2 separate regions of the Homo sapiens genome follow, and region 2 is linked to region 1. The links come from fine-mapping of genetic effects on gene expression. Tissue or cell type: skeletal muscle. Region 1 holds a variant in brackets; the other region holds the start of a gene. All regions are shown on one strand. Distances are between the middles of the regions.

Evidence for each region. PIP is the estimated chance that this variant, and not a neighbour inherited with it, causes the effect.
Region 2: A4GALT starts here. The variant in region 1 is fine-mapped to the expression of A4GALT in skeletal muscle (GTEx, PIP 0.97).

What each region holds. Positions count from the first base shown.
Region 1 is chr22:42,667,867-42,675,968 of GRCh38, reverse strand. No RefSeq gene overlaps it. Among named protein-coding and RNA genes, the nearest start is that of CYB5R3, 23 kb to the right of the region's middle. The variant T/C (reference allele first, on the strand shown) is at 3,736.
Region 2 is chr22:42,717,700-42,725,794 of GRCh38, reverse strand. A4GALT (alpha 1,4-galactosyltransferase (P1PK blood group)) reads left to right here and starts at 4,925. Exons shown (of 3, transcript NM_017436.7): 1 at 4,925-4,998. RefSeq lists silencers at 4,826-5,015, 5,046-5,275, 5,356-5,485.

The sequences.
Region 1 (8,102 bases):
CCTGGGCAACATAGCAAGATCTGTCTGTATTTAAAAATCTATATATATTAGCTGGCATGGTGGCATGAGCCTGTAGTCCCAGCAACACAGGAGGCTGAGGCGGGAGGATCACCTGAGCCCAGGAGATCAGGGCTGTGATGAACAATGATGAACTGCACTCCAGCATGAGCAATAGAGTGAGACTCTGTCTAAAAGAAAAGAAAGGAAAGGAAAACTCCGAATCCAGTCCAGAGCCTTGAAACTTTGGGTTTCCTCAGCCTAACCAAAACCTGTCCTATCCTATAACCACTGAATTTCAAGACTGGGAGGGGCTGGGCTCGGTGGCTCACACCTGTAATCCCAGCACTTTGGGAGGCCAAGGTGGGTGGATCACTTGAGGTCAGGAGTTCGAGACCAGCCTGGCCAACATGGTGAAACTGTCTCTCCTACAAATCCAAAAATTAGCCAGGCGTGGTTGCAGGCGCCTGTAATCCCAGCTACTCGGGAGGCTGAGACAGGAGAATTGCTTGAACCCAGGAGGCGGAGGTTGCAGTGAGCCAAGATGGCACCATTGCACTCCAGCCTGGGAGCTAGAGCAAGACTCCATCTAAAACAACAACAACAACAACAGCAACAAAAAAAAACAGAAACAAACAAACAAACAAACAAACAAACTGTGAGGGACCATAGACCATAGAGATTTACTGGTCCAGCTGGCACATCCCTAGAGAAGCACACATCTCCCACTTTAAGACAATCTGGGCCGGGCACGGTGGCTCACGCCTGTAATCCCAGCACTTTGGGAGGCCAAAGCAGGCAGATCATGAGCTGAGGAGATCCAGACCATCCTGACTAACACGGTGAAACCCCATCTCTACTAAAAAAGTTTAGCTGGGCGTGGTGGCACACGCCTGTAGTCCCAGCTACTCAGGAGGTTGAGACAGGAGAATTGCTTGAACCCAGGAGGTGGAGGTTGCAGTGAGCCAAGATCGCGCCATTGCACTCCAGCCTGGGGGAGAGAGCGAGACTGTCTCAAAAAAAAAAAAAAAAGACAATCTGTAAGTTACCACACAGTACCATACAGAATACCCAGGAGACCCACACAGGGAGGCAAACACCCTCCATTAATAATGGCCTAAAGGGCCGGGCGTGGTGGCTCACGCCTGTAATCCCCACACTTTGAGAGGTGGAGGCAGGCGGATCACGAGGTCAGGAGATTGAGACCATCCTGGCTAACACAGTGAAACCCCGTCTCTACTAAAAATACAAAAAAATTAGCCAGGCATGGTAGCGGGCACCTGTAGTCACAGCTACTTGGGAGGCTGAGGCAGGAGAATGGCATGAACCCGGGAGGCGGAGCTTGCAGTGAGCCGAGATCAGGCCACTGCACTCCAGCCTGGGCGAGAGCGAGACTCTGTCTCAAAAAAAAATAAAATAAAAAATAAAATAAAATAATGGCGTAAAGAAGGTGGAACTGTATTTCCCTCTGAGGTAAGAGACCAGAGGTGGGCAGTCAGGGCCCAAAGATTGATCTTCTCCCCCAAAGTCATCCAAACACCCCAGACTCCTGCAACCCTGCTCTGTTCCTTAACACTCAGCTCTCATCTCATGGTCCAAAGCAGCTGCTCCAGCTCCTGCTGTTGCACCCACACTGAGCCAGCTGACTTGACCCAGAGATCATTATGTCACTTCTTTCTTCTCTTATCCCATTGGCCAGCCCTTACTGCCCGTCCTTGCAAGAGGATCTGGGAAAAACAGTTGCTAGGTAGGGAGCCAGGTGCTGACCTGAAAACCCCATTGTGGTGTATGACAGTGGAGTGGGTGCTGGGGAGGAACTAGCCAGGTCTGCTAGAGAGGTTTCCTCTGGGAAAAATCCAAGTCATTGTATGCCATGATTTCCCAGAATGCACTATGCTGCAGCATGAAGAATGTCACATTTTGTTTTATTTGAACTCCCTAGCATCTTGGGCACAATTCCACTTTGTTGTTAATGCCAAATCCACTTCCCAAGGCAAAAATGTAACGGTTTTTGGACTTTGCTACTGGCTCAGAGTCAGACTGCTCAGATTTAACTCTGGGCCCTCTTCCAACAGCTGTGTGGCTGTAGGCAAGTTACCCACCTGCTTGTGCCTCAGTTTCCTCACCTGTAAAATGGGGATAACAACTGCTTCTGGCCAGGCACATTGGCTCATGCCTGTAATCCCAGCACTTTGGGAGGCCGAGGTGAGCGGATCACTTGAGCTCAGGAGTTTGAGACCAGCCTGGCCAACATGGTGAAACCCCGTCTTTACTAAAAATACAAAAATTAGCCAGGCATGATGGGGTGCGCCTGTAATCTCAGCTACTCAGGAGGCTGAGGCAGGAGAATCACTCTAACCCAGGAGGCAGAAGTCACAGTGAGCCAAGATCATGCCACTGCACTCCAGCCTGGGCAACAGAGTGAGACTCCATCTCAGAAAACAAACAAACAAACAAACAAAAAACACAATTGCTTCTACCTCATATGATTTCATGTGGGTGGCCAGGTGCGGTGGCTCACGCCTGTAATTCCAGCACTTTGGGAGGCCGAGGCGGGCAGATCATCTGAGGACAGGAATTTAAGACCAGCCTGGCCAATATGGTGAAATCCCGACTCTACTAAAAATAAAAAAAATTAGCCGGGCAAGGTGACGCACGCCTGTAATCCCAGCTACTCGGGAGGCTGAGGCAAGAGAATCGCTTGAACCCGGGAGGTGGAGGTTGCAATGAGCCAAGATTAGGCCACTACACTCCAGCCTGGGTGACAGAGCAAGACTCCGTCTCAAAAGAAAAAAAGAGATTGCGTCTGGGAGCACCCAGCACAGCACAGGCACATAGAAACAGCTCAATGAATCCTCTGTCCCCTGAGCCACCAGTCCCATCTCTGAATCTCAGCTTCTTCATTTGTGTAATCAGGGGTGTGGTAGCTGATCTCCAAAGATGGTTTCAAATAATTCTTCCCCTTTCTGCACACATACACCAGTCCTAACAAGAGGTATCTGGAGGCCAAAGCCACTCCGTCTTAGATGCTAAGCTGCCATGTTGACTTCTGATTACCCTCAGTTCCAGGACTACTTTATCTACTGTTAAAAACACGTACCTCCAGCCCTGGCAACATAGTGAGACCCCATCTCTACAAAAAAATAATAATAATAATTAAAAATTAGCTGGGCATGGTGCGTGTGCCTGTAGTCCCAAACCGTTCAGGAGACTGAGGCTGGAGGATTGCCTGAGCCCAGGAGTTTGAGTCTGCAGTGATCTATTATCCCATCATTGCCCTCCAGCCTGGGCAACAGAGCGAGGGCCTGTCTTTTTTTCCTTTGAGATGGAGTTGAGCTCTGTTGTCCAGGCTGGAGTGCAGTGGTGTGATCTTGGCTCACTGCAACCTCCACCTCCTGGGTTCAAGCGATTCTCCTGCCTCAGCCTCCTGAGTAGCTGGGATTACAGGCGCCTGCCACCACGACTGTCTAATTTTTGTATTTGTAGGAGAAACAGGGTTTTGCCATGTTGGCCAGGCTGGTCTCGAACTCCTGACCTCAGGTGATCCACCTGCCTTGGCTGCCCAAAGTGCTGGGACTACAGGTGTGAGCCACCGCACCCAGCCAACAACCTGTCTAAAAAAAAGAGTGTGCACGTAGTGTAAATCCTGCCCGTAGGTCAAAACAACATTATCCTGCCCTTAGTCAAATTACTTCAATTGTCTTACAAACTTCTTCTAAAGTATGTATACAATTTCTC[T/C]ATGGTATTTAAAGCCCTGGGTCTTGGGGGTAGGGGCACAGGGATCCATCTAATCTCGTGGCCTCCTGAGACATGGCTTCTGTGTGTAAGTCTTTAGTAAATGTTTCTTTCTGAGAAAATGCATTTGTTAGCCTCTTTCTTTTCTTTTCTTTTCTTTTTTTTTTTTTTGAGACGGAGTCTTGCTATGTCACCCAGGCTGGAGTGCAGTGGCGCAATCTTGGCTCACTGCAAGCTCCGCCTCCCAGGTTCACGCCATTCTCCTGCCTCAGCCTCCCCAGCAACTGGGACTACAGGTGCACGCCGCCACGCCTGGCTAATTTTTTTGTATTTTTAGTAGAGACGGGGTTTCACTGTGTTAGCCAGGATGGTCTCGATTTCCTGACCTCGTGATCCACCAGCCTTGGCCTCCCAAAGTGCTGGGATTACAGGTGTGAGCCACCGCACCCAGTTGGCAGCCTCTTTCTTTGAGGCTTTCTTTGAATCTCTCAGCTTCCTGGGCCTTTGGGAGTAGGTTTGCACAGACCTGCTCACCACAGAACAACATGGAACTTACATCGAATTCCCTGGGTCCAGCCTGGACCTGGCACAGTGGCAGAAGTAAGGATGTGCCACTCGGGGCCTGACCATTAAGAGAACAGGAAGTTTCCACTTCCTTTCTCGGAACCCAAATACCGTGCTGCGAGGAAGCCCGACTGACATCACCTTTGCAAAGATTATGACGGCCAGATAAGTCTAGCGCAGCTGACTCCATCCTGCTTCCAGCCTCACGGGCTGGCTGGCCTTAGGCATTCCTGGGCGTAGGCCAAACTAACCCTGGGAGAAATTTAGTTTATAGTTTGTTTGTTTTCTTTTTCAACATTTATTCTAGGTTCAGGGGGTGCATGTGCAGGTTTGTTGCGTGGGTAAATCGTATGTGGCTGGGGTTTCCTACACAGATGTTTTCATCAGCCAGGTGGCAAGCACAGTACCTGACGGGTAGCTTTTCCATCCTCACCCTGCTCCCACCCTCCACCCTCAAGTAGGCCCTGGTGTCGGTTGTTCCTCTCTTTGTGCCCAGTTTAATTTTTTTGTTGTTGTTTTGTGGGTTTTTTTGGTTTTTTTTTTGTTTGTTTCTTTGCTTGTTTTTCTTTTTTTGAGATGGAATCTCACTCTGTCGCCCAGGCTGGAGTGCAGTGACGTGATCGCAACTCACTGCAAGCTCCGCTTTCCTGGGTTCACACCATTCTCCTGCCTCAGCCTCCCAAGTAGCTGGGAGTAGCTGAGACTACAGCCACCCGCCACCATGCCTGGCCCATTGTTTTGTGGGTTTTTTTAGATGGAGTCTCGCTCTGCTGCCCAAGCTGGAGTGCAGTGGTGCGATCTCGGCTCACTGCAACTCCACCTCCGGGGTTCAAGGATTCTCCTGCCTCAGCCTCCCAAGTAGCTGGAATTACAGGCATGCGCCACCACGCCCAGCTAATTTTTGTATTTTTAGTAGAGACGGGGCTTCACCATGTTGGCCAGGCTGGTCTCAAACTGCTGACCTCAAGTGATCCACCCGCCTCAGCCTCCCAAAATGCTGGGATTACAGGCGTGAGCCACTGCACCTGGCCTTTAGGTCCAGTTTATAGTTTAAAGCAAAGACAGTAATAGTCCCTCCCTAAAACTGCTTCCTTCCTTGCTTGGAAACTGAAACCACCTTTGCTAAACTAAAGAAAAGTCCATGAGATTCGGATAACAGAGGGGCCTGAATTCTGCTAAAATGTAGACCTAGTTTCCATCATCCCTTACTGCTCAGGAGTCATATGGCCAAGATTCATGACGTCCCCAATGGCTCCTATAGACAATGTCACTATTGTAGAAACGGAGATTGGTTTTTTGAGATGTTTTTCACACTTTTGCATTCTGACAACCTACTGACCCCACCTGGATCTATGACGACTCATGACTCAACCAGTCCGTGTCCCCCACCCAGGGGTGGACTCAGAGCACAAGGATTGTTCCCACCCACTTCTGAGTGCATCCCCAACCAATCAGCAGCACCCATTCCCTACTACACCCTCCTCACCCCCCTTCACTCCCACCCCCCAACTGCAAACCAAATTATCCATTAAAAGCCTAGCCTCTGAGTTCCTGGGGAGGCTGATCAGAGCAATCATAAACTCCTGTCCTTCCAGTTGGCCAGCCTTGCATTAATTAAACTTTCTCATCTTTTTTGGGGGGTGGGGTGGGGGTGGAGTCTTTCTCTGTCACCCAGGCTGGAGTGCAGTGGCACGATCTCGGCTCACTGCAACCTCCACCACCCAGTGATTCTCCTGCCTTAGCCTGCTGAGTAGCTGGGATTACAGGCACCTGCCACCATGCCCAGCTAATTTTTTTGTATTTTTAGTAGAGACGGGGTTTCACCATGTTGGTCAGGCTGGTCTTGAACTGCTGACCTCATGATCCACCCACTTTGGCCTCCCAATGTGCTGGGATTACAGGCGTGAGCCACCGCACCCGGCCAATTAAACTTTCTTTACTGCAACAATGCTGTCTCAGTGAATTGGGTTTATCTGTGCAGCGGACAAGACGAACTCCTCAGGCAATTTCACAAGCAGCTCCATGGATAGGTCCACACGGAGGGTAACAGTGGCTCCCAGCCACCCCGCAGTCTCCCAGGCAGGAGAATGAGCCATCTTGGAGGTGGGCCTTCCAGCCCAGTCAAGGTATCCCAGCTGATGCCACATGGAGCTAAGAGATGGCCCTGCTGAGCCCACAAAATTGCAATACTGTGGCCAGGTGCGGTGGCTCATGCCTGTAATCCCAGCACTTTGAGAGGCTGAGGTGGGAGGATCACTTGAGCCTAGGAGTTAGAGACTAGCCTGGGCAATACAGCAAGACACCATCTCTATTAAAAAATATATATAGGCCAGGCACGGTGGCTCATGCCTGTAATCCCAGCACTCTGGGAGGCCAAGGTGGGTGGATCACCTGAGGTTGGGAGTTCGAGACCAGTCTCCTAGCCAGGAGACCAACATGGAGAAACCCCGTCTCTACTAAAAATACAAAATTAGCCGAGAGTGGTGGCAGGCGCCTGTAATCCCAGCTACTGGGGAGGCTGAGACAGGAGAATCACTTGAACCCGGGAGGTAGAGGTTGCAGCGAGGTGAGATCATGCCACTACTCTCCAGCCTGGGCAACAAGAGCAAAACTCTGTCTCAAAAAAAAGAGAAAAAAAAAAAAGAAAAGGAAAGAAAAGAAAAGAAAAGAAAAAAATATATATATACACACACATATATAGCAATATTGTAAGCCAATGAACAACTATTGTTTTGAGCTACTGAATTTTGGGGTGGTTTGTTATGATCAATGACCGGAAGACAGTGTGACACGTAAAAGTAGGGTGGTACAGAAACAAAAAATACACCTGGCATTGGTTTGGGGACCAGAGAGTAGAAAGGACCTTGACAAAACTGTTAGTGAAAGCTTAAAGAACAGTGAGGAAATTACTTTTTTCTTTTTTTTTCTGAGATGGAGTTTCACTCTTGTCGTCCAGGCTGGAGTACAGTGGCACATCTTGACTCACTGCTCATTTGCCACCATGGCCGGCTAATTTTTTTGTATTTTTAGTAGAGACAGGGTTTCACCATTTTGGTCAGGCTAGTCCCGAACTTCTGACCTCAGGTGATCCACCTGCCTCGGCCTCCCAAATCACTGGGATTACAGGCATGAGCCACCACATCTGGCCCAATATAGAGTTTTTTTATTTTTATTTTTTTTATTTTTTGTTTTGTTTTGTTTTTGAGAGAGTGTCACTCTGTTGCCCAGGCTGGAGTGCAGTGGTGCGATCTCAGCTCACTGCAACCTCCACCTCCCGGGTTCAAGCAATTCTCCTGCCTCTGCCTCCTGAGTAGCTGAGATTACAGGCATGCACCACCATGTCCAGCTAATTTTTTTGTATTTTTAGTAGAGATGGAGTTTCACCATGTTGGTCAAGCTGGTCTCGAACTCCTGACCTCAGATGATCTGCCTGCCTCGGCCTCCCAGTGCTGGGATAACAGGCATGAGCCACAGCGCCCAGCCCAGGAAATTACTATTGGAAGCTGAAGAAAACAAGGCCCAGTTATGTAACCCAAGTGAGATATACTGGAACGCTTGTTTTAATCACCTCTCTTGACTTCATCAGTGCAGGAGGGATTCCTGACCTAGGATTATGGCAATGGCTGAACACAGGACACCCGAATCTGGACAGAAGAGATCCAGAGCAGTTTATGAGTCACATGTACTCACAGCTCAGGAGAGGAGGACACACTCTGCAGGGCCACACAGGGCTTGTGCCTGGTACCAGTGGACCACAAGAGGCTTTGTAGTATCAAGAGGGTAAGGGTGGCCGGGCGTGGTGGCTC
Region 2 (8,095 bases), 50 kb before region 1:
AGGAAATGCCTGTTGAAATAAATTGCTGGAAAGCCACCACACCACGAACCGTGCAAATTGTCAGACTGTTCTTTCCCATGTGGATATGAAATCTGCTTTGGAGCATGGGCCCAGTGGGGCTGCAGGGAGCCCACCACCTTCCAGGACCACTACTGTCTTAGCCAGGACTAAGAGTTATGGACTGAGACCTATTAACTGAGGGCCCTTAGGCAAGGCTGTGCCTGGCTCCTTAAGCCCCAGGGTCCTCCTGGGTAAGGGGTGCCCCTGGAAAGGGCTTAGCAAGTGGTAGGAGTTCACCCCAACAGTAACTATGCCAGTGCTTTATCCTTCCCTTATTGCAGGTAGACCAAAGTGGCCACAGGCTTTCTATTCAACATTCACAACCAGATGACCAGCTCCAGTTTACTGATGGGAGAGAAACCCATTGGTTCAAAGAGTTTAAGAATTTCAGCCTAGCTGGGCGCGGTGGCTCACGCCTGTAATCCCAGCACTTTGAGAGGCCGAGGCGGGCGGATCACAAGGTCAGGAGTTCGAGATCAGTCTGGCCAACACAGCGAAACCCCGTCTCTACTAAAAATACAAAAAAAAAAAAAAAATTAGCCGGACGTGGTGGCCGGTGCCTGTAGTCCCAGCTACTTGGGAGGCTGAGGCAGGAAAATGACGTGAACCCGGGAGGCAGAGCTTGCAGTGAGCTGAGATCGCGCCACTGCACTGCACTTCAGCCTGGGCGACAAAGTGAGACGCCGTCTCAAAAAAAAAAGAAATTCAGCCTAGAAGCTGGGCGAGGTGGCTCACACCTGTAATCCCAGCACTTTGGGAGGCCAAAGCGGGAGGATCATTAGAGGTCAGGTGATCAAGACCAGCCTGACCAACGTGGTGAAACCCTGTCTCTACTAAAAATATAAAAAAATTAGCCAGGTGTGGTGGCGGGCACCTGTAATCCCAGCTACTCGTGAGGCTGAGGCAGGAGAATCACTTGAACTCAGGAGGCAGAGGTTGCAGTGAGCCGAGATTGCGCCATTGCACTCCAGCCTGGGTGACAAGAGCAAAACTCCATCTCAAAAAAAAAAAAAAAGAGCCAGGCATTGTGGTGCACACCTGTGGTCCCAGCTACCCAGGAGGCTGAGGCAGGAGGATCACTTGTGCCTGGGAGGTCAAGGCTGCAGTGAGTTGGAATCACATCACTGCACTCCATCCTGGGCAACAGAGTGAGACCCTGTCTCTAAATAATAATAATAATAATAATAAATCCCAGCCTGAGTAAGAGTGTCTCAAAAAAAGAAAGAAAAAAAAATCTGCCCACACCCACCCTGCTAAGAGAGGCAGATTCAACCCCAGGCAGATCACTCTCTTCTTTCACAAGCATCCCAGCCCTCTCCATCTCCAACCAGAAAGCCAGCCACGAGCCATGCCTTCCCTTCCTCTCAGAGCCTGTGTGCTCAACCTTAGGAGGAAAGGGACCTGCCAGGGTGCTAGGAGGGAGGGAAGAGGGGAGCACTGGGCTCAGAGGCGGAGGGGGTGCTCCGGGGGTCAGGAGAGCCCAGGGCAACATGGGCCAGGCTGTGCTTCCAGGGCAGAGTTTCACAGATGAGTGAACTGAGGCCAGGGCAGGTCAGACACATAGGCTCTTTTGTCCCCTGCTTCCTCCTTCACGCCCTGGCCTCTGAAGCTCTCCCTGCAGTCGGGACAGGTCAGGCTAGAAAATAATTTGGCCTCAAAGGCTGCTGGGGCTTTGGGGGTCAGGCAAATTTGAATTCCAACCTCTGCTTGTTTTTTCCTTTCTTACCTTTATTTTGAGATAGGATCATTTTATGTTGCCCAGGCTGGTCTTGAACTCCTGGGTTCAAATGATCCTACTGCCTCAGCCTCTGTGAGCTTAGGTTAATTTCCATCTTGGGCTCAGTATTTTTCTTTTTTCTGGGACGGGGTCTCGCTCTCACCTAGGCTGGAGTGCAGTGGCATGATCTCGGCTCACTGCAATCTCTGCCTCCCAGGTTCGAGCAATTCTGCCTCAGCCTCCTGAGTAGCAGGGATGACAGGCAGGCACCACCACATCTGGCTAATTTTTGTATTTTTAGTAGAGATGGGATTTTGCCATGTTGGCCAGGCTGGTCTTGAACACCCGAGCTTAGGTGATCCGCATGCCTCGGCCACCCAAGTGCTGGGATTACAGGCTTAAACCACTGCACCCAGCCAACAGCCTCCGTTTTTTTTTGTTTGTTTGTTTTTGAGATGAAGTCTCGCTCTGTCGCCATACTGGAGTGCAGTGGCATGATCTCAGCTCACTGCAACCTCTGCCTCCCAGGTTCGAGTGATTCTCCTGCCTCAGCCTCCCGAGGAGCTGGGACTACAGGGGCACGCCGCCACGCCCAGCTAATTTTTGTATTTTTAGTAGAGACGGGGTTTCACCATGTTGGCCAGGATGGTCTCGATCTCCTGACCTCATGATCCGCCCGCCTTGGCCTGCCAAAGTGCTGGGATTACAGGCGTGAGCCATTGCGCCTGGCCCAGCCTCCGTTTTTTTCATCTGTAAAATGGGGATAACAGGGTGACCTCAGAGGGTTGTGAGATTAACAAGCTGCAAGGAGACCGTTTCCCCAGACATAGCCAGGAAGAGCTTGTGGGTCTGGGCACAGCTCCAGCGATGGCTATTCTAAGAAAGCCATTCCCTTCTCAATTCTCTTTAATCCCTTTGCTTAAGTCCAGGGGCAAGTCTTTGCTGGGTGCTGGCCTGCCTTGAATATCTCTCTACACCTTTCGAATCTTCCTTTTTTTTCTTTTTTTGAGACGGAGTCTCACTCTGTCGCCCAGGCTGGAGTGCAGTGGCGCGATCTCGGCTCACTGCAAGCTCCGCCTCCCGGGTTCACGCCATTCTCCTGCCTCAGCCTCCTGAGTAGCTGGGACTACAGGTGCCCGCCACCACGCCTGGCTGATTTTTTTGTATTTTTAGTAGAGACGGGGTTTCACCTTGTTAGCCAGGATGGTCTCGATCTCCTGCCCTTGTGATCTGCCCGCCTCGGTCTCCCAAAGTGCTGGGATGAATCTTCCTTTTAACAAGGAGAGGGCAGGAGGAACTCAGCTCTTGGAGGGGCAACAGGACCTACCCGGGCTTTATAACATTGTTTTAGTTTTATTTTTACTGTTGCCTTCTAGTCTCTGAGATACTGGTGTTCCATTTAGGGTAGCAATACAAAGTTTCTCTGAAAAATACATTTGTGATCATGGAAAAGCCAACATAAAGCAAAAGCATTAAAAGTATTACAAGTGGGCCAGGTGCCGTGGCTCACATCTGTAATCACCACACTGTGGGAGGCTGAGGCGGGTGAATCACTTGAGGTCAGGAGTTCAAGACCAGCCTGGCCAACATGGTGAAACCCTGTCTCTACTAAAAATACAAAAATTAGCCATGGTTGTGCATGCCTGTAGTCCCAGCTACTCAGGAGGCTGAGGCAGGAGAATCACTTGAAACCAGGAGACAGAGGTTTCAGTGAGCCGAGATGGTGTCACTGCACTCCAGCCTAGGTAACAGAGTGAGTCTCTTCTCAAAAAAAAAAAAAAAAAAAAAAAAAAATGAGTATTACCAGTGGAGAAAGGGTCCGCATTCATTCTTTTTTTTTTTTTTTTTTTTTTTTTTTTTGAGACAGAGTCTGGCTCTTGTCACCCAGGCTGGAGTGCAGTGGCATGATCTAGGCTCACTGCAACCTCCACCTCCTGGGTTCAAGTGAGCATGTCCAGCTAATTTTTGTATTTTGTAGAGATGGAGTTTCACCATGTTGGCCAGGCTGGTCTTGAACTTCTGATCTCAGGTGACCTGCTTGCTTTGGCCTCCCAAAGTGCTGGGATTACAGGCGTGAGTGCTTGCCTGGCCTCTTGTTTCCGTTTTAAGATGGGAGAAGTAACAGCCTGTGATGGGAATGACCCAGGGAGAATGGAGAGAGGGCAGGGTTTCGGGATCAGTGTTGGCGTGAAGGGTCGGGATCTTCTGGAGGGGGTGGTCGTGGCCAGGAGCTGGACGGGTTCAGCCCGGTCCCAAGAGGGAAGGGACTGGGTGCTACCTCAGCGGGTGGGTGGGGGAGCTGGTGGGAATTTTCTACTGATTCCTTCATTCGAAGTGTATTTATTGGGCACCCATTGAGTGCCAGGCTCTTTCTCAGGGCTAGGATAGAGGTTCCATTTTCTCAGTGGCTTGGGCACTGGGTCATCAGCTGAGTGAGAGGATGGGCGTCAGCACTCAAGAAGTCACCCAATGGTTTCATTTTTTGCAGTCTTTGTTGTCCCAGAGGAGTAAGAACTAAAAGCACCAGGACTGTGACATGCTGGAAACATGGCATGTTCCAAAGAGAATAAAATACAGTTTTATGATACACGAATTGTGTGTGATACATTCCAATTTCTCACATTGAACAAATTACCAATAGCAATATGTGTGAAGATGGGGCGAGGTGAGAGTGAGGAGGAGGAGTAGAGAAAGGACGGGGCGGCGTTAAGGATACAGCAAATAACTGGAATTCCGCAAACACTGGGGTGATGCAGGCAATGCCCTTAGCACGGTCCCGGCAGGAGGCGGTGGGATCAGGCCGACCCGGGTCCCAGGGGTGACAGCGTCCCTTCTCCACTGCAGAATATCGAGGTACTCAACCCTCTGAACCTCAGTTTTCTCATCAGTTCAATGGGGAAAACGGGATGGTAACCCGTAATACTGGCGGCGCGGAGGCCGGGGAGCGCTCCCTACCTGTTGGCCGGCGGACTGGGGACTGTCCGCACCCGCCCCGGGGAGCAGCGAGGGCGCGCGGGCGGGGTCGCGGGGACCCCGCAAGGGCTCTGGGGACCGGGACCCGCAGGGTAGGTCGGGACGGGCGGGGCGGGGCGGCCTGACCCCGCCCCGGGCCGGAGGGGCGGTGCTGCCTCCCGCCGGGCCCCAGGCACTGCCCTCCGGCCGCCGCGCCGCCCGCCCGCCGGGGCCCCGCTGTCCGCCGCCCGCCGCCGCTGGAGCTAGAGGTACGAGGGGCCGCGCCGATGTTGCGGGGGACGGGGGCTCCAGGGGGATCCTGCGGCTCGCAGTGGGGAGGAGGCGCCTCGGGAAGGCAGGGGCAGGGGCGGAGGGGCTGGGCCGCCGCCCTAGCCCGGGCCACCTGTTCTGGAGGCGACATTTGTGCGCGCACGAACCCCGCGCGGCGGTCCCGGCCACCGCCTCCACCCCAACTGCGCCCCGAAGTGGAGCGCGGCGGCGGGACCCGGAGCCCCGGCCCTCGCGGGCAGGACGCGCCTGGCTCCGGAGCCCTCGAGGGCAGCCCCACCCGGTTGGGTCCCGGGGCTGGAGAGAGGGCGTCGGGGAGAAGCCGGGTTCGAGGCAGGCTCTGCCCGGCCACCGTGGGTGAGTCGCGCTCCTCCGTCCGGGGGAAGCCTGGGCGTCGGGCGGTGCTCGCCCCGGAGCGGATGCGACCGGGGACGGGGATGGAGAGCGGCCGGCAGGAGGGGGCTCTGCCGGGCTGGCAGCGTCGGCGCCGGCCTTAGGGAGGGTGAGGATTTGGACCTGCCCAGAAGCGGGAAGGGCCCTCCCCGTGCGGGAAACGGCCTGGGTACGAGCTGGGCACGGGGCGAGCCGGTTGGAGTCGCCCGGCCTCCGCGCTCGCCTCGGATCCGCAGGCGCCCCTCCCTCCTCTCCAGCTGGGGAAGGTTGAGGACTGAGCGGGAGCGGAACTGGGCTTGGGAGAGGATCTGCCGGGGCACCTGGTCCCAGCGCCCATCCCGTTTCACTGCCAGGGCGAGTCCCCTTCCCTCAGTTTCATCACCTGTCATCCGGAGGGACAAGTTCCCACCTGGATAGTCTCGGCTGAGCCTCTGGCCCTGAGTGGGTTAAAGCGCCATTTCCCCTGCACCCACCTTTCCCTCACGACACCCTCTCTGCGGCTTCCTCCCCTCCGCCAACGTCGAGTGATTGTTCCGCGAAGGCCCCTTGGGGTCACGTACCCTGCACTCAGCAAATAACCCCGAGCACCTGGTGGGTCTCAGGCCAGGTCTGGCCTTCCCGTTCCCGCCACCAGCTGCCCAAAGACTTCCCCTTTGTCACCTCCTCCCAAAGAATGAGGGAGCCACCCTGCCCAGGGTCCCATAGCAGAGTGCGGATGGAGCCAGGCCTCCCTCAAGATTTCCCACAGCCCTCTTCCAGCCTCAAACCTTCTCCAGGACCCGAAACCCTGCTACACTGTGTTTCCATAGCTGCAACCCCCCAAAAGAGGGTCCCCAAATCAAAGGAATACAAAGGAAAACAAAATAGAAAGGAAAAGAAAGGAAGAGGAGAGATGGAATCCTCTCTGTCATTAGTTTTCTGTTTGTTTGTTTTTTAGGGTCTCCCTCTGTCACCCAGGCTGGAATGCTGTGGCAGCTCACTGTAGTCTCAAACTGCTAGGCTCAAGCGATCCTCCCACCCCAGCTTCCCTAGTGGCTGAGACTGCAGGCACACACCACTACACCCAATGTTGTCATTAGTTTTTCTCTCAAACATTTTTCTAATGCCTTGGGTGCCTGTCGTTTCTTGTCTGCTAGGACAGCTCAGTATTAGAGGATAAACTCCAAAATGGACAGCCATCTACAAAATATGTTTTGTTTCCTTGTACTAATTGAAGCCCTCTAGCTGCTAGGTTAATGGGTCCATTAATTTCCAGTTCGTGTGATGGGCCCTGGGACCCCAGTGTGGAGCAGGATTGGCAGAATCTCCAGGTGGTTTGTGTGGAACACCAGGAGGTTGTGAACTACCACATCAGCCCCAGCTAGCAACTCCCAAGCCCACCTGGCCACGGGGCCACTGGGTTCAGACCTCCAAGGATGCAGTTCAGCTGGGGATGCAGGTCCCGGAAGGTGGTGGCAGGTGGACGGCCTCCACCACCAAGCCAGCCATCTGAGTTCTGAAGTGCACCTCCTCTCACTCTCCCCAGCTGCCTCCTTCTTTGGGGACCTGCTAGGCGTGCTCACAAACTCCTGTTGATCACCCTGCATTTTCATTGGCTCACCGCATGCTTCCCTCCAGATTGGAAGCTCCTGGAGGGAAGGACCCTTGTCCAGATCCCAGAGCCTAGTGCCAGGCCTGGCACCTAGCAGGTGCTTCCTGAATATTGTTTGAATGAATTAACCGAAAGAAGTAGGAAAAACAATTCCTGTTTGCATACTTGAAGACAACTATTGTTAACATTTGCCTTTTTTTTTGCCAGACCTTTAAAAACACGTTTTTCCAGCCGGGCGAGGTGGCTCACGCCTGTAATCCCAGCACTTTGGGAGGCTGAGGCGGGTGGATCACTTGAAGTCAGGAGTTCGAGACCAGCCTGGCCAACTTGGTGAAACCCCCCATCTCCACTAAAAATACAATAAATTAACTGGGCGTGGTGGCACGTGCCTGCAATCCCAGCTACTCAGGAGGCTGAGGCAGGAGAATCATTTGAACCTGGGAGGCAGAGAGTGCAGTGAGCCGAGATGGCGCCACTGCACTCCAGCCTGAGCAACAGAGCGAGACTCCGTCTCCAAAAATAAATAAATAAATAATAAAATAACACGTTTTTCTGTATTTGCATATCTTGTCTATATAAAATATTTTTCCATTAGTATAATTTCACGAGCATTCCTCATCGCAGACATTTTTTATATTTTTCAATGCTTGCATTTTGCTATGTCATGTTGAGTTATTGGATCTCTTGACTTTTTAAAAATATATTTGGCTCTTTTTGATAATGTTACATTGAATTTCTGCATACATTTATACATGGCCACATCTTTCCTGGGAAGGAATTAACCTGGTAATCAGTGCGTATGAACTTCTAGAATGGCTGTATCTGGACCCAGCTAGATATTTCTTCGTATTTCCTAGAAATGAAACTCCTGGGTCAGAGTACGAGAAGCCAGGTTCTTTGTGTGTTGCTTATTGATTGGTTTGAGCTCATCAGTAAGGTTTTACCCCTTGTCTGGTCTTTGTGTGCCAAGGATCTTTCCCCAGTTTATCATTTGGCTCTTATTTGTGGGTGTGTTTGTGCGTGCGTGGGTGTGTGTGTGGGTGTATGTCTGTGAGACAGAGAGATAGAGAGGAGCAGCAAGTTTTTTGTTTTAC